Regions from separate parts of the Homo sapiens genome. Here region 1 is linked to region 2. The links come from fine-mapping of genetic effects on gene expression. A gene starts in region 2. The other region holds a variant in brackets. All regions are shown on one strand. Distances are from middle to middle.

Region 1 (13,296 bases), 23 kb after region 2:
ACAAACTCCTATTTCAAAGTAATAACTTCCAAAAATGACGTTTTCACCATTTCACATTAAGTACACACCATAATCGTTATACTTCTAAGCCTTGATTATGTGCAAATGTTAAGGACATTTTTTTTCTTATTATAAAAATATATACTATGTTAAAGTATTATAAACTCATTATAAGATTATTTTCCCCAGTAAGACATTGCTGAAATCTAAATGTTTACAATAAGTCAGTTGTTCACTGATGTTTAAATTCAACTTTGTAGTCCCACTTAAATTAAAATCCAGGCCAAGTGCAGTGGCTCACACCTGCAATCCCAACTCTTTGTGAGGCAGAGGCAGAAGGATCACATGAGGCCAGGGGTTCGAGACCAGCTTGGGCAACATAACAAGATCCCCTCTCTACAAAAGAATAATAACAATAATTTAAAAAATTTAAATTCTGACCAGGTACAGTGGCTCACACCTGTAATGCCAGCACTTTGGGAGGTCGAGTTGGGCAGATTGCCTGAGCTCAGGAGTTTGAGACCATCCTGGGCAACATGGTGAAAGATTGTCTCTATTAAAAATACAAAAGAAAAAATTAGCTGGGCGTGGTGGCATGTGCCCATGGTCCCAGCTACCTGGGAGGCTGAGGTGGGAGAATAGCTTCAGCCTGGGAGGTAGGGACTGCAGTGAGCTGAGATCGCACCACTGCACTTCACCCTAGGTGACAAAGTGAGACCCTGTCTGAAAAAAAAAAAAAAAAAAAGCCAGTGTTACTTAAGTACAGTCATACAAACTAAGCTGCTACTATAAAATCATGTTTTTCTTTAAAACTGTGAACATACACTGCCCCACCTGGATTGTTTGCACATTAAAGTTTTACCATTTCATAGATTATTTTTAATTGCTTCAACTCATTACTCTTTGCACAAACCTTTAGAATCAGAGTTTATTCACATTTTCTACAACTACTTTTTACATTTCTTATATTCCCAATGGTCTTCATTTGTGCTATATTTGAAATGAAAGGATGAACAATTTACTTTTAGTTTGTGAAGAGAGGAAACCCACATTTCCTAATTAGTGTCCAATTTATTTATATAGTTGATTCTACATGTAAAATATTAGGAACACATTAAAGCAAACTTTAGCATTACATATGTATGTATACTTTCTTATGTCACATTTTAATTATAGAATTGTTTTACTTGAGCAGAAAACATTTGTAAGTTGATTTAAATAAAAATATGTTATCTAATATATTAGCCAAAAGTGCTAGTAGTTCTGTTATATAATACATTGGCTAAAAATGCACCTGCTACTACATTACAGACTATGGGACTTCCAAACATCAGAAGAGAACTTTGGATGTGCAATTCTGGAAATAACAGAATTAGCTTAGAGCACCCTCCTGTTTTAAAAGACAGTGAAAGACTTAAAGCCTGTGAATTGAATCAGAATAAAGGAATGAAGTGAGCCACTCATCTTTATTCATTTTCCCCATGGAGTCAAAGAAGAAATAAAAACAAAGCTGAAATCATTTTTTCTTTATGCTGGTGTTGGCCAAATTAATTTTTGGTTACAAGGTTTCTAATTAGCTTTTTTTTTTTTTTTTTTTTTTTTTTGACAGAGTCTTGCTCTGTCACCAAGCTGGAGGGCAGTGGCGCGATCTCAGCTCACTGCAATCTCCATCTCCCGGGTTCAAACAATTCCCCTGCCTCAGCCTCCCAAGTAGCTGGGACTATAGGCATGTGCCACCACTCGCAGCTAATTTTTTGTATTTTTAGTAGAGACAGGGTTTCACCATGTTGGCCAGGATGGTCTCGAGATCTCTTGACCTCGTGATCCACCTGCCTCGGCCTCCCAAAGTGCTGGGATTACAGGCGTGAGCCACTGCACCTGGCCTCTAATTAGCTTTGAGTAATGGATCCCCCTGCTGAAGCTGGTCATCCTATCCATAAAATATATACAAATATTGTAGTACAATTTTAAATAGTTTATGGTTTCGTTAAGACCATATAAAGCTCCAGAGACCCTAGATTTGAAACCACTATGCATTGTAATGAGTCTATCAAAAATGGCATAACAGGAGCGATTGTATACCCTGGTAATCATGTGCTAAGCATCCGGGTTTAACCTGGCATAAATGTTAAAAAGAAAACTTTCTATGCCGGGGGCGGTGGCTCATGCCTGTAATGCCAGCACTTTGGGAGGCTGAGGCGGGTGGATCACCCGAGGTCAGGAGTTTGAGACCAGCCTGGCCAACATGGTAAAACCATGTCTCTACTAAAAATACAAAAATTAGCTGGGCATGGTAGCGGGCACCAGTAATCCAGCTACTCAGGAGGCTGAGACATGAGGATTGCTTGAACCTGGGAGGTGGAGGTTGCAGGGAGCAGAGATCACGCCACTGCACTCCACCCAGGGAGACAGAGTGAGACTCCATCTCAAAACAAACAAACAAAAAAACCTAAAGCTTTTTAGAATGTCATCTGGATCTGTAAAAGAGCCTCTTTCCTAATGAGTTCAATGCATTACCCTATGGCAATCTTTCCATGACAGTAATAGGGTAGCCTCTGTTATCAACATTTTATCAGGACTAAATATTCCACTGTAGATCATTTACTCAAGTTCTCTCTTTATCTGCCTCCCTCTGGCTGCCAAGACCTTTGGCACCTCCAACAGAGGGTGGGAAGGAGAACTGAAAACATGAGACTCAAATTGTTTTGTTTTGCTTTCATTTGAACACCTTAACTAAACAGTTTTGTATAAAAGAAGAAATGGAAACTGCTGATTACCAAAAAGTCTTTTAATGGTCTGCAAGTTATCATTTGTCTACATATCCCTTTTTCTTATTGTTATAAGTAATAAAGGGTTGGATGTTTCCTTAATGAAATGTACAGTGTTTTAAAGAAATCCTGTGGCTTCTGCACATTACATAAGCCATAGTTAGTCTGCCTCAGAATGATTGCAGAAATATTGTAAATTTAGTCTCAGAAACTGGCTGCTAATGTAGGCCCAGCCAGCTTTTCAGCTTTCAAGACTGCTCTGTGTAAAATAGCACATTTGGAAATCTGTTGCTGCTACACCCTATTCATACCATACCCTGTTCCTAAGAAGTAAAACTTAACATGAAGAAGAAGCATAAGATATGTGAAAGGGTCACAAAAATGAAAGAAGCAACAGGTTCTAAAAATATTTGGTATTGGTTCAGCGTTCAAATACCTAGACATTAATGTCTTTGAGTGTTGACAATATTCTCTCGTTGGCAAAATACCTCTTCTCTTGATTTCAGTGCTAGCTGGCAAACTCCCATTCCACGGATGTACAACTGGCATCTGTTTCATACTGCTTTTGTTTTTGTGAGAAAAAAGTTAATATAAGGTAAATATCACCACCACCACCACCACCATCATTATTTAATGTTAAATATCAGCTTGACACAAAGCAATGGACTTGACTACAATTATCAGAGTTAGTTAAACTGCCTCAGATTTTTTGTGGAATGAGGTCATGTGAAAATATAATCAAACACTGTACTAGAAATAAGGAATTTTTTTCCTTCTCTTCATGGGAGACAGATTAGCTTAATTCATGTGAAATTGTTTCTTTTTCTCTTATGTCCTTTTCATTTCAAGAGGTATTCCTACCTTTAGTGGGAAGGGTTTTTTTTTTTTTTAATTTTGATTTGTTTTGTTTTGTTTTGAGACGGAGGCTGCCTCTGTCTCCCAGGCTGGAGTGCAGTGGCACGATCTGTGCTCACTGCAACCTCCACCTCCTGGTTTCGAACAATTCTCCTGCTGCAGCTTCCCAACTAGCTGGGACTACAGGCACCTGCACCACCCTGCCTGGCTAATTTTTGTATTTTTAATAGGGGCGGGTTTGAGATGGCCAGGCTGGTCTCAAACTCCTGACCTCAGGTGAGCTGCCCACCTCGGCCTCCCAAAGTGCTGAGATTGCAGGCATGAGCCATTGCATCTGGGCTTTTAAAAAACGTTTTATGTGAAATCTCGTCTCTACTAAAAATACAAAAAATTAGCCGGGCGTGGTGGCAGGTGCCTGTAGTCCCAGCTACTCGGGAGGCTGAGGCAGGAGAATGGCGTGAACCCGGGAGGCAGAACTTGCAGTCAAAAACACAAACAAACAAAAAAAACATTTTTATTACAGAGAATTTCAAACATGAAAAGAGTAAATAGAGGAGTATATTAACTTCCCATGTAATGATCACCCAGCTTTGACACTTAATGACATTTTTCCAAACCTGAATGTAAAGGTTTTGTCCGTAATCTAAACCAGAACTCTTATTTATGCTAAAATAA[T/C]ACATTAGAATAAAAAATAATATAATAGAAACTCTTTTTGTTTTCTTTTTTTTTTGTTTTGAGACAGAATCTCGCTCTGTCCTCCAAATTGGGGTGCAGTGGTGTGATCTCAGCTCACTGCAACCTCCACTTGCCAGGTTCAAGAGATGCTAGTGCCTCAGCTTCCAGAGTAGCTGGGACTACAAACGCACAGCACCACTCCCAGCACAATTTTTTTTTTGTTTTTTGATACGAAGTCTTGCTCTGTCGCCCTGGTTGGAGTGCAGTGGCTAGAGTGCAGTGGTGAGATCTCGGCTCACTGCAACCTCCGCCTCCCGGGTTAAAGCGATTTCCCTGCCTCAGCCTCCTGAGCAGCTGGGATTACAGGTGCACGCCACCATGCCCAGCTAATTTTTGTATTTTTAGTAAAGATGTGGTTTCACCATGTTGGTCAGGCTGGTCTCGAACTCCTGACCTTGTGATCTGCCTGCCTCGGTCTCCCAAAGTGCTGAGATTACAGGCGTGAGCCACCACGCCCGGCCAATTTTTTTTTTTTTTTTTTTTTTTAAAGACAGGGCCTTGCTATGTTGCCCAGTCTGGAATACACCAGCTATTCACAGGCTCACTGTAGCCTTGAATTCCTAGCCAGAAGCAGTCCTCCCTCCTCAGTCTCCCAAATAGTTGGGACTACAGGTGTTGAAAGCTAGACATTTTCACATTTCTTAATGGTAATTTTTATCAACATTTTAAAAAGAAGAGATGGTAAGAACAAATATCAAAGTGACACTCTTGGCAATAGCCAAACCAAGGGGTAAAACATGTCTATCAAACTGAACTTAAGCTAACAGCATGTGATATCATAATTATATGAGTAGTGCTTCCTAAATCCTGGTTTCTTCGAGAAGTAAGAATGTACCCAATGCTTTCATTTTGCTGAGTCACCATGTGGAAAGAGAGAAAAATCAACCACTTACTGAATGAATCACTTTGTTTTTCTTCTAAGTAATTTGCTCTTCTTTAAGAACTGGCAGGCATGAAGCTACCAGGACTTGTGCTACCTGTCTTGTCAACAGTAATACTCACCCAGGGATTACAGAAATGCTTTTAATAATAACATAGATCAGACACAATCTAAATTCTCATAGTAGGAAAGAGTTACAGGAGTTATATAGTAAACCTACACCAAGAAATTTCGTAGGAATTATATGCCAATGAAAGAAAATGTAGGTAGGCAGGTCTTAGTAATGTATATCTGCCTCTTTAAAGTGTTCTAGGGTCATAACCAAAAAGATTATGTAATTCAGACAAATGGGCCTTCTGAGAGGTATATCCGTTCTTGGTCTGACAAGGGATCAGGACAAGACAGGCATAGTGATCTCAAGTCCCACTTGGCCTGTGGACAATGACTGATTGGGTTGGACATTTGAGGTACAAAATCCAGACTAATTTATGGGAACCAAAATAAAGTTGCACTTGAGCTGTTTTACATCTTCTGTGGCACTTTGATGGAAACCATGCACTGAAGAGCCCATTGCCTAAACCATCCCATTCATAGGCATTCTATGGTGCTGCTCTACTGTTTTAAAGTCCCCAACATTCTTTGCTTTAGCCAAAAAATGTAGTGGCACTGACTGCAGAGGGTGGCTTTTTAAATATACTTACGTCCAAAAGGTAGATGCAAATGCTCCAGACCCCCCTTTCCCTTTGTTAGCACGGATTAGGTCAGTAGGCAGCCTTGTATTGAGGAGGAAGGTGTAAGAGGAGTTAGTCTGTTTAGGGGTGGGTCTGGTGGGGTCTGGGGTTGGGAAAAGAATAACAGCGATAGTCTTGGTCTGGCCAGAATGTGCTGTAAGAAGTTCCCTATGCCCTGATAAGAGAAGGAGGAAGTTCTCTGTAAGGTCCTCTGAGCTGGTCGCACCATGGTCGAGCCATCGTGACATTCCCCCGCCCTTGTGATAATGTACTTTGTGATATTCCCCAACCTTGTGAATGTACTTTGTAACATTCTTCCCCACGCTTGTGACAATACACACTCACCGCCCTTGAGAATGTACTTTGTAACATCCATCCCCCGCCCGCAAATAATTGCTCCTGACTCCACCGCCTATCCCAAACCTATAAGAATCAACGATAATCCCACCACCCTTCGCTGATTCCTTTCTCAAACTCAGCCCACTTACACCCAAGTGAATAAACAGCCTTGTTGCTCACACTAAGCCTGCTCAGGTGGTCTCTTACACGGACAGGCATAACATTCTCCTTCCCTGAAGAGAGCAGAAGGAGAGAACTTATCAGCATTCAGGAATGCTGTGAGAGAAGATGTGGCACTCCAAAGGCAGGAAACCATTTCAAAGAAATGTGCTCAGAGTTGGGCGGTCAATAAGGATTGCTTTCAAAGGAAAAAGATGGTGTCACAATTCTGCCAAAGCCTGCTCTGAAAAAAGGTTTACCCTTATAAAAATAAAGGGGCTGGGCGTGGTGGCTCACGCCTGTAATCCCAGTGCTTTGGGAGGCTGAGGTGGGCAGATTATGAGGTCAGGAGATCAAGACCATCCTGGCCAACATGGTGAAACCCTGTCTTTACTAATAATACAACACATTAGCCGGGTGTGGTGGTGCACACCTGTAGTCCCAGCTACTCAGGAGGCTGAGGCAGGGGAATCACTTGAACCTGGGAGGCAGAGATTGCAGTGAGCTGAGATAGCGCCACTGCACTCCAGCCTGGAGACAGAGCAAGACTCCGTCTCAAAATAATTAATAATAATAATAATAATAATAATAATAAAATAAAATTTTTTAAAAAAAGGGCCTATCTTCTCCCTATCCCTCTAAATCTTGGAACATAGATAATTTAATGGCACTGGGAGTTGCAGTGTTAGGGGGAGTGGTAGAGCTACCAAACCCAAGTAGTCAGCTTTCCATTTCCCAGGAGCTGAAGAGGGCTGGGTAGAATCAGCTCTGCTTTTTACCATTCTCTTCATTGACATCTATTCTGCCCCTGTTCATTTGAGGTTCACAAAGGCTTTCCTGCTTTCTTAGAGGAGTCTGACATCAAAACCCCAGCAGAGCCAATGTGGAGGGGTATGTGAAGGATGAGCATCTTTAAAATTACAGAAAGTGGTTTTCCCCATTGTGAGAACACTTTTCAATCTATTCTCACTGGGAAAATTAAGATATTCTAAACTTTAAGAAAATGCTGTCAACTTTAATAGGAAAAAAAGACTAAATTATTTGGAATTTATGGGAATGCAATCCAGTTGTGATGGTAAATAGTTTTATTTGTTTTTTTTTTTTTTTTTTTTTTTTTTTTTTTTTTTTTTTTTTTTGAGATGAAGTCCCACTCTTTTCACCCGGGCTGGAGTGCAATGGAGCGATCTCGGTTCACTGCCACGTCTGCCTCCCGGGTTTAAGCGATTCTCCTGCCTCAGCCTCCTGAGTAGCTAGGATTACAGGCATGTGCCACCACACACAACTAATTCTGTATTTTTAGTAGAGACGGGGGATTTTCACCATGTTGGCCAGGCTGGTCTCGAACTCCTGGCCTCAGTCGATCCACCGACCTCGGCCTCCCAAAGTGCTGGGATTACAGGCGTGAGCCACCATGCCCGGCCCGGTAAATAGTTTTAAAAGTCTCTTTTATTTAACCTAACAAGGGGCAAAGATTGCCTAACTTAAGTTTCAGTTGTTTTTATTTCCCCTGCTTCCCTTCTCATAATGGTTTGAGTGGAGAAATCATAAAATCATAAGTTTAGACCTAAAAAAGTCCTTGGAGATAATTTCTTCCCCTTCATTTTACAGATAAGAAATCTCAGGCCTGACAAGGTGGCTCACACCTATAATCTCAATGCTTTGGGAGGCCAAGATAAAAGGATCATAAGCCCAGGAGTTGGAGACCAGACTGGGCAACATAGTAACACCCCCATCTCTAAAAATTAAAAAAAAAAAAGAAATTTGCCAGGCACAGTCGTGTGCACCTATAGTCCCAGTTATTTAGGAGGCTGAGGCAGGAGAATCCCTTGAGCCTGGGAATTCAAGGTTGCTATGAGCTATGATCTTGCCACTGCACTCCAGCCTGGGTGACAGTGAGACCCTGTCTCAGAAAAAAAGAAAAAAAAGAAAAGAAATCTCAGAACAGATAAATAGCTAAATGTAGGAAGTCAAAAAGTTGCAGGAGAGACATTAAGTATAGATAATTCATAAAATAAAAATCAGATCCACGAAATCCTGAGTTTGTTGTAGAAAATGTCATTACACTTAACAATATTTTCTCTGCAGATCTGGATATGTGTTTGTTGTCTCTATTTTTGTTGGTTAAAGAATGGATCAAGGTTTTACAAAATTGTTTTTTGCTGCCACAGTGGAAATCTACAAAAATGGGTAATAGGCTATTTTGGGACCATTGTTCAGAAGTGCATTTATCTTAGAAATGGTTACCATGGAGATGAGCACACGTTGTGTGACTCTACAGCTTGCAAGTTAGAGTCATCCATGCTAAGACATAAATAGCTATATTATTACACACAGATGCACAAGAGCTCGTGAACACATGCACAATAAAGTTATGTTGTTCCTCTTTTTGTAAAATAATAATAAAATTCCATGTAGTGCTGACATTTGGTGGTGGAAGGGCCTGCACATCTTAGACATTTTAAAATGTAATATTGTATGATGATATAAAAACCACTTTTTAAAAACACCATAAAGTAGTCTGAATCAAGTTTAAAGAGTAACAACATACTTAACAAGTAAAATAAATGAGAGCATGTTTCTTAGACATCACTGCTTCTTAAAGTAGAAATACAAAAAAAGTAAAAAACAAACTCAGAAAATATTACAAAAAGTTCTTGAGTTATTTTTCCCAAAGCACTCAATATTGGGCATAGGTATTTACCTAGTTTCTCTCTCCCTCTCTGGCTAATTAAGTACTTTCTCTTTTTTTCTTTCTTTCTTTCCCTCTTTCTTTCTTTCTTTCTTTCTTTCTTTCTTTCTTTCTTTCTTTTTCTTCCTTCCTTCCTTCCTTCCTTCCTTCCCTTCCCCTTCCTTCCCTCCTTCCTTCCTTCTTTCTTTTGTTTCCCTTTTTTTTTTTTTTTTTTTTTTTTTTTTTGAGGCAGAGTCTCACTCTGTCTCCCAGGCTGGAGTGCAGTGGCGCGATCTTGGCTCACTGCAACCTCCCCGCTTCCCGGGTTCAAATGATTCTCCTGCCTCAGCCTCCCAAGTAGCTGGGACTACAGGTGCTCCCCACCATGCCCCGCTAATTTTTTGTATTTTTACGGGGTTTCACCCTGTTAGCCACCAGGATGGTCTCAATCACCTGACCTCATGATCCACCCGCCTCGGCCTCCCAAAGTGCTGGGATTACAGGCATGAACCACTGCGCCTGGCCTTGTTTCCTTTTTCCACTTGGACTTTTCTTTTTCTTCAGGAATTTTTTACCCTCTGTGTCCCCAGGCAGCTGCATCACCCTAGAGAGGTCAAAATGGTCACAGCACCATGGAATGCTCACTGGCAGACCGAAAAAGCACCCGCTGGATGCTGAGGGAGTCTGCAAAGAAAATAAAGGTTTTAACATTTCAGTGATCACTTGCCGAGATCACAAAGGCATATATTCTGATAAAGTTAATTTGCTTTAATATTTTTACCTTTTTCTTTACATTTTATAATGGATGTTTTCAAATTTTCAAACAAAAAATGAAAGGATAGTAAAATTAAGCCCTCTCCCAGGTATCCGTCACCCAGCTTCAATACTTATCAACATATGGCTTATTCTGTTTGGTTTACAACCCTCCTTCCCCCATCGTTTTAAATCAAATGCAAAACATCATAATAACAATTCTTTTGAATAATTGAACTAGTCAATAAGAAATCTTTTTTCCTCCACAATTTGGAGTTTTTTCTATTTTCCTTGGAAACTTCAAAGGCTTCATTGTGTATAGGGTGCAACGCAGGGTACTGAATTCAGTAGTGTAAACAATAATAACTATAATAATAATAGTAATAATAATAATGCTTTCTCCATCATGCAAGTGATTAAATACACCAATGATTTAGCCACATTTAGCTTTGAAGCTACATGCCATCATTCATCTATTTCTTTTCTTGTGTGAAAAGAAATCTTTTCTCATGCACCAGAGTTAATTTTTTCAAGACTAATTACTGCATATGTATTTAAACACATCTTTAAAGTAAGCCATGTACTTTGACTTGTTTTATAGAATCACAAGAAATATACATAAAATAAACAAAATACATGTTTTCTGCTTTTTTAAGACAGTGATTTTAACACATCTGATTAGTAAACAAACAACCTATAATAGCTAAAGAGTACACAAAAAGTACAACTATAAAAAAACTAATCATCTTTCACAATCTTTTCATTAAAAATAGCCATGTATGGGCGAAGTGGGTTGGCTCACACCTGTAATCCCAGAGCTCTGGGAGGCCGAGGTGGGCAGATCACTTGAGGCTGGGAGTTCGAGACCATAATGGCCAACATGATGAAACCCTGCCCTGTCTCTACTAAAAATACAAAAATTAGCCCGGGGTGGTGTCACGCGCCTGTAATCCCAGCTACTCAGGAGCTCAGGAGACTGAGACGGGAGAATCGCTTGAACTCGGGAGGCGGAGGTTGCAGTGAGCAGAGATGCACAACTGCACTCCAGCCTGGGTGACAGAGTGAGACTCTGCCTCAAAAAAAAAAAAAGTCACATATGATTTCTCAGTATTTGCTGCCATTTTCAAACTTAGGCATCATGTAGTTTTAGAGATAAAATCAACAAAATACAAAACGTAGGTCAGCAAAAAAGCTGATTATATAACCTTGATTTGCTTTCATTTTAGTACTCTTATCACACTGCCTTCTAGAATTTCAGTACTGAATAACTTGTGAAGTTTTTCCCCCAAATTTGTCCATCTAATATGGCTTATTCTCAAATGAAATATTATTTATCAATGTATTAATAATTAGATCCACGCCTTTAAAAATACATATAAAGTTTTAAAATCTTAATCTTTTAAATCTGTCTCAGGAAGTAAAAGATTTTTAATGTAGAATGAGAGACCCCTCAGAAATCAGAAAAAACATCTTTTCACTCTACATAGCCTCATCCAGGTTAATTAATATGTCTTTAAATAACCATTGTTTGAAAAGAGTTAGCGTTTCACCTTTATGTATAGCTCTAGTGCTTCTAGCATTTAACTATTCATCCTTATAAAATATCTACATAAATAGCTCCAGGAAAATATACAGGTTTTTAGGAACATTTCCAAGAAAAAAGTTACAGGGGACTCCTGACTCAATTGAAAAAGAAAGGATTCAAGATTAAAAAAGAGACATGTCATATTGTATTGGACCAGTTGATTATTCTAAATAATACTGACACTACAATAAATTTTGAGGGACAGTGCTATAGCTTTCTAATTCATCAATTACAAATCCAGAAATAGGGATGCTTTCCTTAGTTGATGTATAATCCAAACATCTTCTCAGCTTGTTGGATACTATTCTGTTGCTGTCTCTACCAGTACATAAGACAATGCATTCAATAACTTCATTACCCACCATATCCTTTTAGTTGACATAAAAGTACTTCTTTTAAACTTCAAAACATGTTCCCTATTATTTTTAATATCCTAGGATTTTATTAACTTCGTTCACATTATCCATATTATTCCTGATTCTTTAAAGTAATTTGATCATATTTCTTCCCAGCTTTTCATTATTTTAAATTAAAAAGTCATATATGTTTTATATAAATAAGTATTATTAAAAATAGCATTTTAAAGAAGGAGGATAGATTTCTAGAAGAAGGTAGGGAGGTCAACATTATCTGAAAATGACACTCTGGAAATGAATTTTCTGTCATGGACACTCTAGCAGTTTCCAGACACAACCTCCAGCTGCCTCTAGTTATATGCCATCGTATCTTTTCAAGCTCTTTAATTTGGCAGCTCTTCTACCACCCTATTGAAGCTGTTCTATGAAAAATGATCAGCTGATCTCATTGTATCATGTCAATTTAACTTGTCTTCATTCTCTGTATTCTGACTTCTCTGTAACTTTCTACAACATGGAATAACTTTTTCTTTTTTTTGAAATTCTATTTACCTTTGAATACATGGTCCAGGCTTTCACTGGTTTCTATAACTTCTCTTTATCTGTTTTTTTTTCATGTTTCATTTGTTTTCAAGACTCCAAATTTTGTTCCCTAAACCATCGTCCTTTCCTGGGCTTTCTGGAAACTGGCTCCTTTGAGAAGTTCATATCTTCTCATTCAACCATCATCTTTATGTGAATGACCTCAACTCAACTCAGATATCCTGGCTTTATCACTCACTTATTCATCCATCCATGAAATATTTATTGAAGGCTTACAATGTGGCAAGCACTAAATAGATAAGTTGGGCTCCTCAGCACCCTAGAGAAACACAGCTCATAGTCCTTATAACACTAGTGTCCAGATTTCCCTAGCTAGAAATTGTCAAGTCATTTTTGATGAGCCTTTTTCTTTAATCCCCAAATAAATTTTTTAAAATAAGTTCTCATTTATTTTATTAAAAATTGGCTTTTGTTTGGGCCTGGTGACTCAGGCCTGTAATCCCAGCATTTTGGGAGGCTGAGGCAGGAGGATCACTTGAGGCTAGGAGTTAGAGACTAGCAAGGGGAAACACTGTAAGATCTTGTCTTTACAAAAAATTTTTAAAATTGTATTTTTTTTTGTTTGTTTTTTGAGACGGAATCTTGCTCGGTCGCCCAGGCTGGAGTGCAGGGGCACAATCTCGGCTCACTGCAAGCTCTGCCTCCTGGGTTCACGCTATTCTCCTGCCTCAGCCACCCAGGTAGCTGGGACTACAGGCACGCACCACCATGCCTGGCTAATTTTTTATATTTTTAGTAGAGACAGGGTTTCACCATGTTAGCCAGGATGGTCTTGATCTCCTGACCTCGTGATCCACCCGCCTCGGCCTCCCAAAGTGCTGGGATTACAGGCTTGAGCCACTGTGCCTGGCCAAAAATTGTGTT
Region 2 (17,462 bases):
ACTGTGCAATTATTGTGTGCAAAACACCTATGCTTTAGAAATTATCTAAATTATCACTCAACAGAAAGGAAAGGAGCTTCTGAAAAATTAAGTAACTTGATCAAGATTTCACAACTACTGACAGGACCTACAGAGAAATTCATACCTGATTCCAAAACACTATCTAAAAATATATGTCCCCTCCCAAAAATAATGTTTAAAAACATGCTCCACTTATTCAAAACCTCCGCTGCTTAAAACCTCAGGAAGCAGTTGCTATCACGGTAAAAATCTGATCAGTTCAATCCATTTTATTTTTTTGAGACAGCATCTTGCTATATTGCCCAGGCTGGACTTGAACTCCTGGTCTCAAGAGATCCTTCTGCCTCAGCCTCCTAAGTACCTGGGATTACAAGCACGCACTACTACTGTGCCTAGCTTCAGTTTTATTTTTTAATTTCTATTCTAACTCAGGAATAAAACACATTCCTTTGCTAAAATATGGAAGAACAATTATTTTCTAGTACAATAATTGGAAAAATGCCAAAATAGGGAAGAACAAAATGATTTTCTAGTACAATGAATTAACTGAAAAAATATGAACAAGATCTCAGGAGTCAGAGTGAGAATGCTATTCGTGAGGGCACAGAAACCAGCCCCATCTGAATAATGTCAAGGATGAGGAGAAAAATACAAAATGTGGCCAATTTAGACTCGAAAGAGGAATTTGACTTAATAACCAAGAAACACCACACGTTTTGCAAAATTGAAGGAATAAAGGGACAAAGATTCTTCCCTGAGTTTTCAACAAATTGAAATTAATACCTAGAGGAAGAATAGACGTTACCTGAAATTATGGAATGTAAAAGTAATATATACCTATGATTATTTTATGTTCCAATTTTTTAAATAATGAAAATATTACAGTATGAAAATTGTCCATAAGTACTGGAAAACTTTATATCAAGAGCAAAATAAGACTCAAATTCATCAGTAGTTAGCTTTCCGATTATTTTTTTCCTCCTGTGTTATGATGTATATTTTGGCCAACCGATCTGCTTTAAGTTAGCACTTTCCCTCTTAGGTAGGTAAAAAGAAAAGAGAGCAATCTACTGCTAGTAACTTGGATTAAGAGGCTTGATAACAAAGTATACTGAAATTATTGGAAATGCTTTCAAATTAATGTAATTTTATCAATAACTACCTCTTAATTGGAGCCAATAATTGAGATCTAAAAATATAGAAATCACAGTTATTGTCCTTTAGACACAAGTTCTGAGAAAGTCATGAACTTGAAAAACTTCAACCCATTATACACTTCAAAATTAGTGATTCAAAAAAAAGAAAAAAATTTAGTGATTCAAATGAGTTATTAATTACCATTCCATTTACAAGAAGATATATATGTCACTGTTGCCTTTAAACAGTTTTCAGCTTCCAATATACAGGATCATCTCAGTTTATGAAGCAAAGGTGTTTTTGCAGTTTTTTAAAGTATATATATTGTCATACCTTTGCGGTTAAAAAGAAATTGTTATTTAAAGGACTACTGTGGAACACATACTTCTGAAATACAAATAATTATTCTGTCTTAGCAGTAAGTAGATGTCAAACTGTATCAGGCAGTAAAATAGAATAGTGAGGAATGTTTCCTAAAAGGTAGTCTTGAGCTTAATTTAATCTGGGGGTGGGGGGGAATGAACATTTATTAAGTGTCCACTATGTTCCAAGCCCCAGAAATAGAACTAGTAACAACAGCCACCATTTCCTCAGCTCTTACGCTTGCTACAAGGCACTGTACCAATACTTCCTATGGATTCACTCATTTAATTCTCCTCTTAACCTATGAGGTTAATAAAAGCGTATTCCAAAAACGTGAGATAACTGGAATATCTATTTAAGATTACAAGAGTTAGAATCAATAAGACTAGCAAGGCTTAGAAAGCCAAAAAATACAGCTTGAAGCATAACAGAAGCTGAGAGCAAATAAGTACCATGGAGCTGGTTTTGCTAGTAGACAGCCAATGTGCAGCCTTCCAGAAATTTAGTTATAACCCAGACAACTAAATTAAATCACCACAGTTAATAATTAGCAGGAAAAGAAATTACAGGTATTTAAGAATTTACATTTCAGTTATTTCAGTAGTTAACATTGGAACAATTTCAGGGATTTTTTTCTGTTCAAGTTAAGTTTGGGTCAGGATCCAGATGTATGGAATTTGGAAAAACCTTCCAAGAGGATTCTATTATGTATCCCTGGCTAGGAACCACTGATCTCCTCACTTTGTAAGTAACCTACAGCCCAGAAATGTTAAATAACTTGTTCAAACTAAAAAAAAAGTATCAGAGCATTATCTAGAATCTAGCTCTCTCAACTCACAGAATATTCTGCAAGTACGGAAAATGTTTAGAAAATAAGTGAAGTTTAGAGGTTATATGCCTGCAAGAAGAGCATTACTATTTTATACTCTAACACAGTCATGCATTGCTTAATGTCATCAGATGATTTCATCATTGTGTGAACATCAGAGCGTACTTACATAAACCTAGATGGTATAGCCTACTATACACCCAGGGTACATGGGATATAGCCTACTGCTTTCATGCTACAAACCCGTACAATGAGAATACTGCAGGCAATTGCAACATAATGGTATGTATTTTTGTATCTAAATGTATCTAAACATAAAAAAAAACAGTAAGAATACAGTGTTATCTTATGGGACTACTGTGTATAGGCAGTCCATCATTTCAGTGTTATGTGAAATATCATTATGCAGAATGACTGTATTTTGTTATCTTTATACAGATGCTCCTCAACTTAACAATAGGGTTACATTCCAATAAACCTATCTTTAATTGAAAATATCATAAATCAGCCAGGTGCGGTAGCTTACACCTGTAATCCCAGTACTTTGGCAGGCTGAAGCGAGTGGATTGCTCGACCCCAGGAGACAGAGACCAGCCTGGGCAACACGGTGAAACCCCAACTCTATCAAAAAAAATACAAAAATTAGCCTGGCATGGTGGCATGTGCCTATAGTCCCAGCTACTCAGAAGGCTGAGGTGGGAGGATCGCCTGAGCCAGGAGGCAGAGGCTGCAGTGAGCTGAGATCGTGCCATTGTACTCCAGCTTGTATGACAGAGCTAGACCCTGTCTCCAAAAAAAGAGAAGAAATGCATTTAACACACCTAACCTACCTAACATCATAGTTTAGCCTAGCCTACCTTAAACACTTACATTAGACTACAGTTGAGTAAATTATCTGGTAATACAGTACACTGCAGAGTATCAGATCACAAGAAAGTATCATACCACTTCCTACTGCATGCCATAGCTTTTGTGCCAACAAGAAGTCAACAAATTGTTAAGTCAAACCATCACAAGTTGGGGACCCTCTGTATATCCTACTGAATAAAAACTCTGCAATCTGAAATAGTAACTAGTTAGTTTCTGTCACTGGCTGCCTGAAGTTTCTATTCATACTTCAAAACCAAGTACAAATGTGACTCTCCTCTTTACCATCTCTCCCAGATTATAATCCTTAATTCCCTTCTCAAGACTCCGACAATCCTACTTACACACTGCATTTTAGTTAAATATCTATACATCTCTCTCCCCACTAAGACACTAATTTCTTGGCACTAGAGACTTCATCTTAATTTACCTCTATTTCCCTCATGCCAGGGAACACATTCAATAAACGAAGAGTAAATGAATAAATTAAAAGGGAAAACCTCAATATTTGAGAGTAACTGAAAGAATAGCTCATATGATGGCTTATAAAACAGTTTTAAAGATGCAATTTTATTACTATCTAAAATAGTCAACTATGCAATAACAAAGCATTTTCCAGTATGGGTTCTTCTACTTAAAACAAGAGAATCATTTCAAACTGGCACATATACAACCCTACTTACAAACTAACAATTCAGTAGCTTATAAAGTTATAAAGATGGGCAGACAGTGAATTTTTGAAGTCACTCATTTATGTTATGTTTGAGTTTTTGACAATAAACATATATTCCTCTGGTAATCATTAAAAAATTTTAAAGTTACTTAACAATTCCATAAAGGAAACAAAAGATGGATTATTTATCATTGCTACTTAAAAATTAAAAATAATTATTTTCCTAAGCATCTCTGGAACACGCTTCTGCATCTGATTGACCAAAAGAGAAAATAACACCCTAAGTGGAAACAAATACAATACTGAAAGGGAAGACTAAAACCAGTTCCCCTCCCTTTACCCTGCACTGCTCCCTTCACAAACATCTTTTCTTCCCCCACTAAATAAGCAGATACTGGCTAAAGACTTTCAATTTTACAATGCTAGTCCTGTTAAACTTTTCCTTAGAAAATAAATTTATCCAAAATAATGAGAAAAGGATAGGGAAAAAAAGAAAAATATTCCTCTAATGTTTTTAAAGAAGTAAAACTGCATTTAAACCACCACAATACTCCACTTTAAAAAGTTTGTAATAGTTGTATGGGTTTTTTTTTTTTTCTCATTCTCTGACCTTTACAGTACAGGCAGAAATTTAACAGGAGGAAAAGACGCAAGTATTAACTAAGATCTTTTTAATACAGAGATTAATCTCATGTTGGTAATGGTGGAGGAAAAGAAAGGAGAAGGAAAAAAAGAAGAGAGTAAACCACACACACAAAAATTTAACTGAGCAAAATGTTTTCTTTGGGTATTTGGCAGTTTTGTTGAACAGTTATACAATTTCAGAAAAACAATGTTGCCCAAAAGAGATGCTCAGATTCCTAAATACTATTTTCACATATTACCATCCTCTACCTTCAGAAGCAATTCTGTGAAGTATGTAGGGCAGGCATTATGCTCCCTACATTACAGAAAACTAAACTGAGTTCAGTTATTGTTTAAAATGAAACATAATTTCTACTCTACTACTTCACCATAAAATCATAAAGATAGAGCTGGAATAGACTTTAGTGTTCCTTTTACAGTTAATTTTCCCCATTTTACAGATGAGGAAAAGTGAAGCTCAAGAAAGTCAAATTACTAACCAATGTTAGAGAACTCTCAGTGACAGAATGAAGATTGGAATGCAAGTCTCTTAACTTCTGGCCCAGTGCTCTTAATCCCACCACCACACAAGTTGCCATGCTGGAACCTTTAAAAATGTTACAAATCTCTACATGAGTGAGTCACATTATTAGGTCTGCAAAAGGGAAACCATATATTTAAAAACAAAAAAAAAGGAATTAAGCAACAAATAAATTTAAATGTAAAGCTACCAACAACCTTCAAGTCTTTTCCCTAAAATCCGCTTTTATGTGTTCCTACATCCTCCGTCAAACTACAAGTTCCCTAAAATTCCCATAAATTGTAAATATTAAGATCTCAAAATTTTTGACTGATGAAATTAAAAAAAAAAAACATTCTTCAGTAATCATGCTCCAACTTCCCTAATAAGCGCCAAAGCATATTACTGACAATAATAAGTTATTTTACTTAACTATTTTTCATTGTATATGTTCACTAAAATATCATTTCCACTGTATACTTCCAATTGAAACAGAGTAATTAGATCTGGTAGACAATCTAATGCACATGCATTAATGAAAATGTGATAATTGATTGGCAAACATGTATTATGAGGTGGAAGGTTTTTTTTTTAAGACTAGAAGAGGTTGAGATTGAAAAGAGTATGTGGTTTATAATGCAGTAAGAATGCAGACAGCATGAACCTAATAAACACATGGTGAACAGATCTTACTCACTTCTTTGGCAAGATATTTGAACAAATGTTTCAATTCCTAGCCAGCTGGGAAGATATGCCAGACTCACAGACAATTCTATAGGCTGAAAGATCCAAAATCTTATCTGATTCATTTACATGCAAAATTACACAAAGGGAGCAAACCCAAGGGTATTATTATTAAAACTAGAGCACACAGGTTTTGAGAGAGAGGAGGGAAGTAATTCATTCATTTCAACCTGGCCTAACTGAAGGCCTCGAGTATCAGATAAGGCCCTAAATACTCTAGTATTTCAAAAATTACACTGTCCCTGCCCAGAGAAAATTCACACTCAAGCAAGGTAAGCAATGTATTTCTTAAGAAACTAAAAATATAAGGCAAGTGCTAAAATATGACGTTTCAATAAATCAAAATATTTGACATGGATATAATAATGATCACATTCAATGCATTTTAACTTTCACAAGTTCAATAATACAAGAGGCTGAAGCTTCCCAAAACAGGAAGTGAAAAAAACAGTGCTTTTGAGAAAAGGCAATGAACTGGAATTATTAGAGTTCAAATGCCCAGAATTTCATTTAATCTTATTTATGAAGGTGGGATATTAAAGTTTGATTGCATTTATCCTACAAAAATGTTTAATAAATGCTTAGAAAAGGTATTTTGCCCAAATACCCAAATCACTTTTGATGTTACTCTCACTTCCTCTTTTAGAAACCATCATAACCATTTCCTTTAAACCACAATACCACAGGTCTAGTAACTTTTATAATATTTGACTTGTTCATTTTTGGACAAAATTCATATAGGAATCAATTTCCAAGTTTTTTAAGCAGCACAATCTCCCCGAACAGTTCAGGTCAATGCAACCTCTAAGTAATACTATTTAAAACTGAATTATTCCTAACCTATATAAATTTATAACCTAGGCTCCTTGGTAAATGCAGAGGGGCTTCTTTGTCATGACACTGAGCTCCTGCCACATAAAAGGTAACAAACTGAGTAAGCATGTTGCAGTTACTCTCCAGATAGCACTGGGTTTAGAGTAATAAAGCCTTGCAATTAGGTGAGCAACCAGACTTTGTCCTTATCCAAAATTTATCATCATTAAACCAGGACACTCTTTAGAATTAGTGTCTACATCAAATTGTAAAAAATAAATCAATTTTACACTCAAACGCTTGGAAATGAATTTCCAAAGAAAAAAAAAAAAACCTTTCTTCAGAAGCCCTCTCAACCTACAATCTATTGCTATGATTAAACTAAACGGTAACATTCACGATATATTAAAAAGCCAACAAATAGTTATGAAGGTATGACATCAAAGACACATTGGAAACTCGATGGATCTAAATTTTCCAAATATCTCTTTTTCTCTTTATCAAATTGTTTAAAACTTACCAACCTTGCCTTAAGGGGAGAGATTTTGTTGTTTTGTCCTACGATAATGAATGTAATTATTTGTTCTATCTTTACATGGACTTTTCTAAACTTCCAGTGGTCTTCCACTCCTTACTGTACTGAGGACATGTAAAAGCCTTTAAATGGGCCTATTAGCTATAGTTGCTCAAATTATCAGACTATGCTATAAATCAGCAGCAATTGCAACATTTTTACGGTTTTTATTTTGTACAGACACCGAACTTTAAGAAATGGTATTGGAAAATCTAACATGAGGAGGAGTACAGGGGAAAGAGTAGAAGGTTGTTATTCCAGTTCTAGTGACTCACAGCCTAGAAGTATTTCAGAAAATTGGTTCCACCCTCACTTCCCCCTCCTCTCCACCTTCAAAATGAAATAATCCCAAATCGTCAACACACTCTCAATGGCTTTTTATTTAGCAATCTAAAATAAAGTGGCAAAGTGGAGGGGATACGGGATTCATCCAATCAGCCCTTCTCTACCCACATTCCCACACCAAAAAATGGGGATGTGGGGTGTAATCCCTGTTCACTGCTGCCATCTCCGTAAGAATATGGAACACTCAAGTTTTCCTACCCACCTAGAATTTCGCCCACCCACCACCCTCCCTTTCCTATGGGCCCCATCATGGGGGCGGGGGCGCCGAGGAGGGGACAGCTCCCGGCTCCCAGCGGCGCCCCCACCCCGTGCGAGGCCCAGCGCCCGATCCCGCCGCCGGGAGCCGGGAAATGGCTTCTCTGCCTTCGGCCGGCCGGCGAACCACAGGGAGAGGCGCCCGGGACTCCGCATTAGGCCGCGGCGCATCCAGGCGACCCCGGGCCGGGCCTCGGGCGGCGACGCCGAGATTTCTACACCCGGCGCCTCCTGCCGCCCCCACCCCACGGCCTCCCTTGCCCTTCATCCCTCCCGGGCCCGCCCGCCTCCGCCGCGGCCTCCCCGGCCCGTGCGCACCTTCTTGATGTTGTAGAGGCGGGTGAGCATGCCGACGCCCCGGTCGTTGAGGATGGTGAGCTTCTCCGCCAGCTTCTGCTGACTGGGCTGCAGCACTGAGCGCGACATGGTGGTGCTGGTGCCGCCGCCGCCGCCGGCCGCCTCGCGCCCAGTCACGGGCCCGCGGCCTTCGCAGCAGCCTCTCTCGGGCCTCCTCCCCTCCCGCCCGCGACCTCCGCCTTAGGAGAGCGCGCCCATGGCCCTCGCGCCCCAATCCCGCGCCGGCGACAGAGCGAGCCGCGGCGGACTCCTCGGAGCCCCTTCTCCCGCAGCAGCCCGCGCCCCGGCAGCCTCCTGCCTTCCGCCCGCCGCCCTTCCGCCCCCACCCCCGGCGCTCTCCGCCCCAGCCCCCAACGAGCCGCCTTCCCCGGCTGCTCCACTAGGTGTGGCGGCGGCGGCGGCGGCGGCGGCGTCTCCGGCGGCTGAGAACGAGGCCGCTTCCCGCAGCCCCGGACGGGCCCTCGGTCACCTGATCGGCAGCGCCGGCGCCCCCGCGAGGCCGGACGGGGAACTGCGGCCGACGGGCCCTCGGCATGGCCTCGCCGCCGCCGCTCTGGCCCTGGCCCTGGCCCGGACCGCCCACTACGCCTGATGCCGGGATGGGAGTCCCAAGCGGGGACTGAGTGGGGTCGCGTTGTGTGCTCTTTCCACTTCGCCCCACACCCCACTCCTTCAAGTTCCCAAAAGTTGCTTTTCCGCACCACCCTTCTAAAGAAACCGGCAGAAACTCTGCTGGGAGGCGGGGTGTTTTCCAGGCGAGTTTCGCTTAAGAGTGGGCTGGTGGCTCCAAGCGCTTTTTCCTCCCACTGCTTGACAGGCGCTCGCCGCAGAACACAGCAGATGTTGTGCTCCGCGAGGTGGGGATCGCCTCTGCCAGCCTCCCCAGCCCATCCTCAGTCTCCCCGCCTGGAACCAGTTTGTGAGAGAGGAGGTCGGAAGTGAGGGTAACTCAAGTCCTTGAGATAATCACAATCTAGACTTTGTCGGCGAGGAGCACCCATCCGGAGGAGACGCAGTAGGTCCTGGCATGTGGAAGGCAAAAAATAAATGTTTGTTCAATGCCTAAAGGAACCGCTCCCATTTTTTTACAGCCTCCACCCTAAATCCCACTTCTTCTTGGAAACATTCTTCTTTGCCATCTCATTTTTCCTGATCAATTTCTTCTTAGCGACACTCCAAGGCTACTCCCTTGTCAAATGTATTAGACATGATTCCAAAAGTGAACTAACTGAGGACTTACGTAATTGAGGTGAGAAACTTCAGCCAAGAGGACTCAGGCCTCTAATATTTTTGGCTTTGCCTTTTCTCGATATGTTAATTTTTTATATTATATTCATTAATTTTAAGTCAGTAACAAAATGTCCCGCCACATTCAATAAGACATTCTAAGAGTAATAAGCCATCACTGGATTTATCAAAACTCTTTAAGAAAAGGAAATTGTAATGAATAGCTTTAAAATATTTTTTAAAGCTACTATATCTACTATTCGTAAAGAAATCTTCATTTTAATATTCCAACAAGAAAGAAGGAGTGGACTGAATGGATTTAATCTAAGGGGCATTTAAAAGAGTCCTGTTCCCACCAAAAGAAGTCATAATCATACCTGCCAGTGTGCCTGAAATTCTATATACAAAGCTGCAGTACCTTGAATGAATGCTTTGTACCTAGAGAGTCTTAAGAATACAAACACTTCAGAGAGATCATCTGTCGAGCTATTACTAGTCATTAACTGGTCAAGGAATTTAATTTATCTGGTTACTTCTCAGCCTGATAGTTAACATTTTAATTTAGAGGAGGCAAGGTTGTGGGGCCTGGAATAGTAAGGGCAGACCTGAGAAGGGGAGGCTGCGAGGAGGGGTTTGGGGTAGCCAGATAAGAAAATTTAAAAATGTTGAACATTGGGGAAATATGTGCTCCTTTAGGGAGACTACAAATAACTAAGTCTAGACGCAGAATTACAGAGTGCTACCAATAAAAGATTGTCTCATTTTCTAGTTTTTAAAAACTGCTGTATAGGGAGAACAAGAAAATGGCACTGTATTATAAATTTGAACACAACTCTTACTCCCCAAGAAAAACTATCATGTTGCCATATAAACTTGAATACTAGTAGCTGCTTATAACTCAGGAAGTACCCAATAGGAGAACGCTGTAGATAGTAGTCTCATTATTCAATATTTATTGTCACTAATTCATAGACATACTGGCCCTAGACTGTAATGAAATGTATATATTTGCGTAAAAGAGATTAGATGTAGATGAATTACAATTTTTGTCTTTCTCTACATTTTGCATTAAAAAGAACAAGTGTACGGGAATTTTTCTTAAACTTTTTAACTTTTTTGTAGAGACAGGGTCTCCCTATGTTGTCCAGGCTGGTCTTCAACTGCTAGGCTCAAGCTCCATCACACCTGTAACCCCCACACTTTGGGAGGCCAAGGCAAGAGGATTGTTTGAGTCCTGAAGTTCAAGACAAGCCTTGGCAACATAGGGAGACCCCCATATCTACAAAAATTTAAAAATTAGCTGGGGGTGGTGGCGTGCCTGTGGTCCCAACTACTCTGGAGGTTGAGGTGGGAGGATCACTTGAGCCCGGAAGGCAGAGGCTGCAGTGAGCTGTGATCACACCCCTGTACTCCAGTCTGAGTGACAGAGCAAGACCCTGTCTTAAAAAGAAAGAAAGAAAGAGAGAGAGAGGAAGGAAGGAAGGAAGGAAGCAAGCAAGCAAAGGAGGGAGGGAGGGAAGGAGGAGGAGAGGGAGGAGGGGAAGGGAGGGGAGAAAGGAAAGAAAGAAGGAAGGGAGGGAGAGAGGAAGGAAAGGAAGGAAGGAGAGATGAAAGAAAGAAAGAGAGAAATTGAGGCCAGGCACGCTGGCTCACTCCTGTAATCCCAGCACTTTGGGAAGCCAAGGTGGATGGCTCACTTGAGGTCAGGAGTTTGAGACCAGCCTGGTCAACATGGTGAAACCCATCTCTACTAAAAATACAGAAATTAGCCGGGCATGGTGATGCGTGCCTGTAATCCCAGCTACTTGGGAGGCTGAAGCAGGACAATCACTTGAACCCGGGAGGAGGAGGTTGCAGTGAGCCCCGTGATTGCACCACTGCACTCCAGCCTGGGTGACAGAGTGAGACTCTGTCTCAAAAAAAAAAAAAAAAAAAAAAAAGGAAAAGTACATCCATCATCCAGCCTCCCTTGCAGCTTATGTTCTGACCAGTAAGATATAAGCTGTCAAGAACCTTCCTAAAGGGACTGCTGCTGCTCTCCATTTGCCAGTTCTTCCTCACTTCCTTCATTCTGCCACACCCAACAAGGATGCAATGACCACTATCTTGAACCAGGAAGACAACAGCCACTCAGTAAGGATGACAAAACATAAAAATGGAAGGTGTATGTGGGCTTTTTAGAACACAACAGCCATGTCAAACTTGGCCTGTCTAGACCTGGTTTTGTACGAAAGAGAAATAAACTTCTAGCTTTTTTATTTGTTTTTTTTTTTATTTACTTACAGCCAAACGTGATTCTCAATAATCCTCAAACGTGATCCTCAATAATAAGTTTCTGTGGCCAACTTTATAATATCTCTAATAGGAATAAAATAAGGGAGGATAACTAGATTTAATAGTTATGGTTTTTGCACTGTGTCAGATGTTGTTACAATTTGAGCTACATTTTCTCATTTACTTCTTTCAAAAACCTTTAGAGATATTATCATCTTTAATTTTACAGATGAGAAAACTGAAATGCAGACAGTTTTTTTTTTTAATTGCCAAAGATCACACCCATAGAAAATGGTAAAGCTGATATTGGATCCCTTATCGGTCTGACTCCAAAGTTGGTGCACTACTGTGACAAGACAGTTGGATGGCACTACATTTTTCATGCATCCAGTGAACATGATTCTATAGTTTCCTCTAGAGTCCTATAACCCTGCTCAAACCTTTATAAACAGTTCCTTCACTTTCTTCAATTCACAGTTAAGAGTCTGCCATATTTTTTCCTGACCGATACATCAGCTTTTTTAGATGGCTTTCTTTAGCTTTGCTTTCTCCAGAAACTAGCATGAGAATTATTTCTGTAATATCTTTTGCTAATCATAAAGAATGTTTATGCGTTCTTTTTTTAAAATCACTTAGTTTACCCAACCCAGTGTTGCTTCTCTATATAAGGCAAGAAGTGAGAAAAATTGATTAAGGGTATCTCTATAGGTTCTTAGGATAAAGCCCTTTGATTAGGAGGTCTGCCATCAAAGGCAGTGTTCCACTTGATCTTAAAGACAAATATAATGTTTTTCCTCCCATCAAACTTCAGTGTTCCACTTGATCTTAAAGACAAATATAATGTTTTTCCTCCCATTAAACTTCTAACCAGGTATTACTAAGTATGACTAGAAATGTATGAACAAATTTCTCTTTGAAATAGCCTGGGAATTGAGAAGTAGACATAGTAATTTTGTCTGTCCTTCAACCCTTCCTTTGGGAAGCCACCACCTTCTGACAAAATTGAATGCAGAAAGAAAAAGGGCCCAAGCTGTGGGAAGAGTCAGACATAAGTGAATAACAAATTAATAGAGCTTTTCAAGGAAGTGCCATTCTAAAAAATTGCATTTGGTGAGACCATAATGCAGAGAAACCAACCCTGGGTGAACAACAGTGGAAAAGGACAATAGATTTCCCTGTGGTTTAACAGTAATTCATGTCCTGTTCTTCTGCTTGGCAAAGACCACAAGGTATAACATTTATTCCCCAAAAAATTATTAAGAAAGAGAATGAGGAAAAGACAGGGCAACAGTGAGGAAAAGACAGGGCAACAGTATCCATAGTAAATGAAGGAAGGAGTTAAGACTTAGCCAGAGATTGCAACTCAGTAGAGCAGAAGAGTAACTGAGACCAGAATAAAGACACATGAGGTATCTCCAGTAATCAGTAGAAGAGATGCCAGAAATACAGCTGATCTGAAAAGTTAAAAAAATGAAATAAAATAAAGAATTAATTACAGCCTTGATCTTGACCACTCACATCCAATTAGATTCATCTTATAGTATGCCTAATCTTTGGTAATATAACTCACACATGTTTATTTGCACCTGCTCTATAAAACTATAGATTTAGCTTTCCTTTTTTGTTGTTTTTGCTTTTTGTTTTTTTGTTTTAGATATTTATTAGGCTAGACTTATGCATGAATAGTATATGATGGAATATATATCAGTGAATACAAATATTGGTTGATCATTTTAGGTTTATAATTTTTTAACGTTAAAATGCTACATGGAAAATAGGCAATATCAATGGTAGAACAAAATGAGTTAGAATACAGGGTTAGCATTTTGATGATACCAACTTTCAGCTGAACAAAAATAATCTATTTACATTTTTACATTTTTACATTTACATCAAATGTAAAAACTCCAGAGATGAATATTCACTCCAGAGGTGAATATTCTTTCAAAAATTTGAAAATATATTGAATCTATTGAACTGGACCTCCAAGGGGAGGCCTAGCATACAAATTTGAAGTTATCAGAATTTGGGTATTATTTGTAGCCATGGGAATAAATTGAGATACTTTTTGGAGAGTATTTTTTTAAAAAGGAAAATAGTGTGTAATAGAAAGAAAGAAACAAAGAAAGAAAGAAAAAGAAAGAAAGAGAAAGAAAAGAAAGAAAAAAACGAAAGAAAAGAAAGAAAGAGAAAGAAAGAAAGAAAGAAAAAGAAAGAAAGAAAGGAAAGGAAAGGAAAAAGGAAGACTTATGAGGTGTTAGGCCTGTGAGCCCAAGCCTGCACGTATTCATCCAGATGGCCTGAAGCAAGTGAAGAATCACAAAAGAAGTGAAAATGGCAGATTCGGCCGGGCGTGGTGGCTCACACCTGTAATCCCAGCGCTTTGGGAGGCCGAGGCGGGTGGATCATCTAAGGTTGGGAGTTTGAGACCAGCCTGACCAGCATGGTGAAACCCTGTCTCTACTAAAAATACAAAAATTAGCTGGGCGTGGTGGTGCATGCCTGTAATACCAGCTACTCGGGAGGCTGAGGCAGGAGAATCGCTAGAACCCAGGAGGTGGAGGTTGCAGTGAGCCCAGATCGTGCCATTGCACTCCAGCCTGGGCAACAAGAGCGAAACTCCATCTCAAAAAAAAAAAAAAAAAAAAAGAAAATGGCAGATTCCTGCCTTAACTGATGACATTACCTTGTGAAATTCCTTCTCCTGGCTCATCCTGGCTCAAAAGCTCACCCACTGAGCACCTTGTGACGCCCACCCCTGCCATCCAGAGAAAATCCCCTTTGACTGTAATTTTCTGCTACCTACCCAAATCCTATAAAACGGCCCCACCCCTATTTCCCTTCACTGACTCTCTTTTCGGATTCAGCCCGCCTGCACCTAGGTGATTAAAAAGCTTTATGGCTCACACAAAGCCTGTTTGGTGGTCTCTTCACATGGATGTGCATGAAATTTGGTGCTATGACTCGGATCAGGGGACTTCCCTTGGGAGATCAATCCCCTGTCCTCCTGCTCTTTGCTCCGTGAGAAAGATCCACCTATGACCTCTGGTCCTCAGACCAACCAGCCCAAGGAACATCTCACCAATTTTAAATCAGGTAAGCCACCACTCTTTACTCTCTTCTCCAACCTCTCTCACTATCCCTCAACCTCTTTCTCCTTTCTATCTTGGCACCATCCTTCAATCTCTCCCTTCTCTTAATTTCAGTTCCTTTCCTTTTCTGGCAGAGACGGAGAAGACACGTTTTATCTGTCAACCCAAAACTCCGGTGCCGGTCATAGACTCGGGAAGACAGTCTTCCCTTGGTGTTTAATCACTGTGGGGACGCCTGCTTGATTATTCACCCACGTTTCAGAGGTGTCTGATCACCATGAGGATGCCCACCATGATCCTTCGCCCTTAGTGGCAAGCACCACTTTTTGGGGGGCAAGCACCCCCCACCCCTTCTCTCCGTGCCTCTACCCTCTCTTTTCTCTCCACTTTCCTGGGGGGCAAGCACCCCCCACCCCTTCTCCACTTTCCTGGGTGGCAAGCACTCCCCACCCCTTCTCTCTGTGTCTTTACCCTCTCTTTTCTCTGGACTTGCCTCCTTCACTACAGGCAATCTTCCACCCTCCATTCCTCCTTCTTCTCCCTTAGCCTGTGTTCTCAAGAACTTAAAACCTCTTCAACTCACCCCTGACCTAAAACCTAAACACCTTATTTTCTTCTGCAATGCCACTTAACCCCAATACAAACTTGACAATGGTTCCAAATAGCCAGAAAACAGTACTTTTGATTTTTCCATCCTACAAGATCTAGATAATTCTTGTCGTAAAATGGGCAAATGGTCTGAGATGCCTGATGTCCAGGCATTCTTTTACACATCAGTCCCTCCCTAGTCTCTGTTCCCAATGCAACTCATCCCAAATCTTCCTTCTTTCCCTCCCACCTGTCCCCTCAGTCCCAACCCCAAGTGTTGCTGAGTCTTTTCAATCTTCCTTTTTTATGGACCCATCTGACCTCTCCCCTCCTCCCCAGGCTGCTCCTTGCCAGGCTGGGCCAGGTCCCAATTCTTCCTCAGCCTCTGCTCTCCCACCCTATAATCCTTTTTTCACTTCCCTTCCTCACACCCAGTCCGGCTTACAGTTTCATTCCGCGACTAGCCCTCCCCCACCTGCCCAATGATTTCTTCTTAAAGAGGTGGCTGGAGCTAAAGGCGTAGTCAAGGTTAATGCTCTCCCAAATCAGTTAGCGTTTAGGCTCTTTTTCATCAAATATGAAAAACCCAGCCCAGTTCATGGCCCATTTGGCAGCAACCCTGAGATGCTTTACAGCCCTAGACCCAGAAGGCTATCTTATTCTCAATATGCATTTTATCACCCAGTCAGCTCCTGACATTAAAAAAAAAAAAAGTTCCAAAAATTAGATTCCGGCCCTCAAACGCCACAACACGACTTAATTAACCTAGCCTTCAAGGTGTACAATAATAGAGTAGAAACAGCCAAGTAGCAATGTATTTCTGAGTTGCCATTCCTTATGTCCACTGTGAGAGAAACCCCAGCCACATCTCCAGCACACAAGAACTTCAAAATGCCTAACTTGCAGAAGTCAAGCATTCCTACAGGACCTTCTCCATCAGGATCTTGCTTCAAGTGCCAGAAATCTGGCCACTGGGCCAAGGAATGCCCACAGCCTGGGATTCCTCCTAAGCCTCGTCCCATCTGTGCAGGACTCCACTGGAAATTGGACTGTTCAGCTTACCTGGCAGCCACTCCCAGACCCCCTGGAACTCTGGCCCAAGGCTCTCTGAGTGACTCCTTCCCAGATCTTATCAGCTTAGCGTCTGAAGACTGATGCTGCCCAATTGCCTCAGAAGCTTCCTGGACCATCATAGACACTTTGGGTAACTCTTACAGTGGAGGTTAAGTCCGTCCCCTTCTTAATCAATACAGAGGCTAGCCACTCCACATTACCTTCTTTTCAAGGGCCTGTTTCCCTTGCCTCCATAACTGTTGTGGGTATTGATGGCCAGGCTTCTAAACCTTTTAAAACTCCCCAACTCTGGTGCCAACTTGGACAATATTCTTTTATGCACTCCTTTTTAGTTATCCCCACCTGCCTAGTTCCCTTATTAGGCTGAGACATTTTAACTAAATTATCTGCTTCCCTGACTATTCCTAGGCTACAGCTACATCTCATTGCCACCCTTTTCCCCAGTTCAAAGCATCCTTCACATCCTCCCCTTGCATCTCCCTACCTTAATCCACAAGTATAGGACACCTCTACTCCCTCCTTGGTGACCGATCATGCACCCCTTACCATCCCATTAAAACCTAATCACCCTTACCCCCACTCAATGCCAATATTCCATTCCACAGCATGCTTTAAAAGGATTAAAAGCCCGTTATCACTCGCCTGTTACAGCATGGTCTTTTAAAGCCTATAAACTCTCCTTACAATTCCCCCATTTTACCTGTCCAAAAATCGGACAAGTCTTACAGGTTAGTTCAGTATCTGCGCCTTATCAACCAAATTGTTTTGCCTATCCACCCCGTGGTGCCAAACCCATATACTCTCCTATCCTTAATATCTCCCTCCACAACCCGTTATTCTGTTCTGGATGTCAAACATGCTTTCTTTACTATTCCTTTGCACCGTTCATCCCAGCCTCTCTTCGCTTTCACTTGGACTGACCCTGACACCCATCAGGCTCAGCAAATTACCTGGGCTGTACTGCCACAAGGCTTCACAGACAGCCCCCATTACATCAGTCAAGCCCAAATTTCTTCCTCATCCTTTACCTATCTCAACATAATTCTTCATGAAAATACACATGCTCTCCTTACGGATCGTGTCTG

Direction of the effects. Positions count from the first base shown, and alleles are read on the strand shown. Sizes are in standard deviations (SD) of each study's normalised expression.
For the expression in thyroid of the gene that starts at base 8,549 in region 2, C is the high allele of the variant in region 1 and T is the other (small effect, 0.28 SD a copy in GTEx).

What was found. PIP is the estimated chance that this variant, and not a neighbour inherited with it, causes the effect. A credible set is the group of variants that fine-mapping cannot tell apart.
Region 1: its variant is the best candidate, but not a certain one, in a credible set for the expression of NCKAP1 in thyroid (GTEx, PIP 0.63).

What each region holds. Positions count from the first base shown.
Region 1 is chr2:183,054,524-183,067,819 of GRCh38, forward strand. LOC124900540 (small nucleolar RNA SNORA77) reads right to left here and starts at 9,823; the gene lies at 9,712-9,823. The variant T/C (reference allele first, on the strand shown) is at 4,299.
Region 2 is chr2:183,029,909-183,047,370 of GRCh38, forward strand. It overlaps NCKAP1 (NCK associated protein 1), which reads right to left and starts at 8,549. Exons shown (of 31, transcript NM_013436.5): 1 at 8,084-8,549. The coding sequence starts at 8,191. RefSeq lists silencers at 7,969-8,088, 8,149-8,738, 8,471-9,122.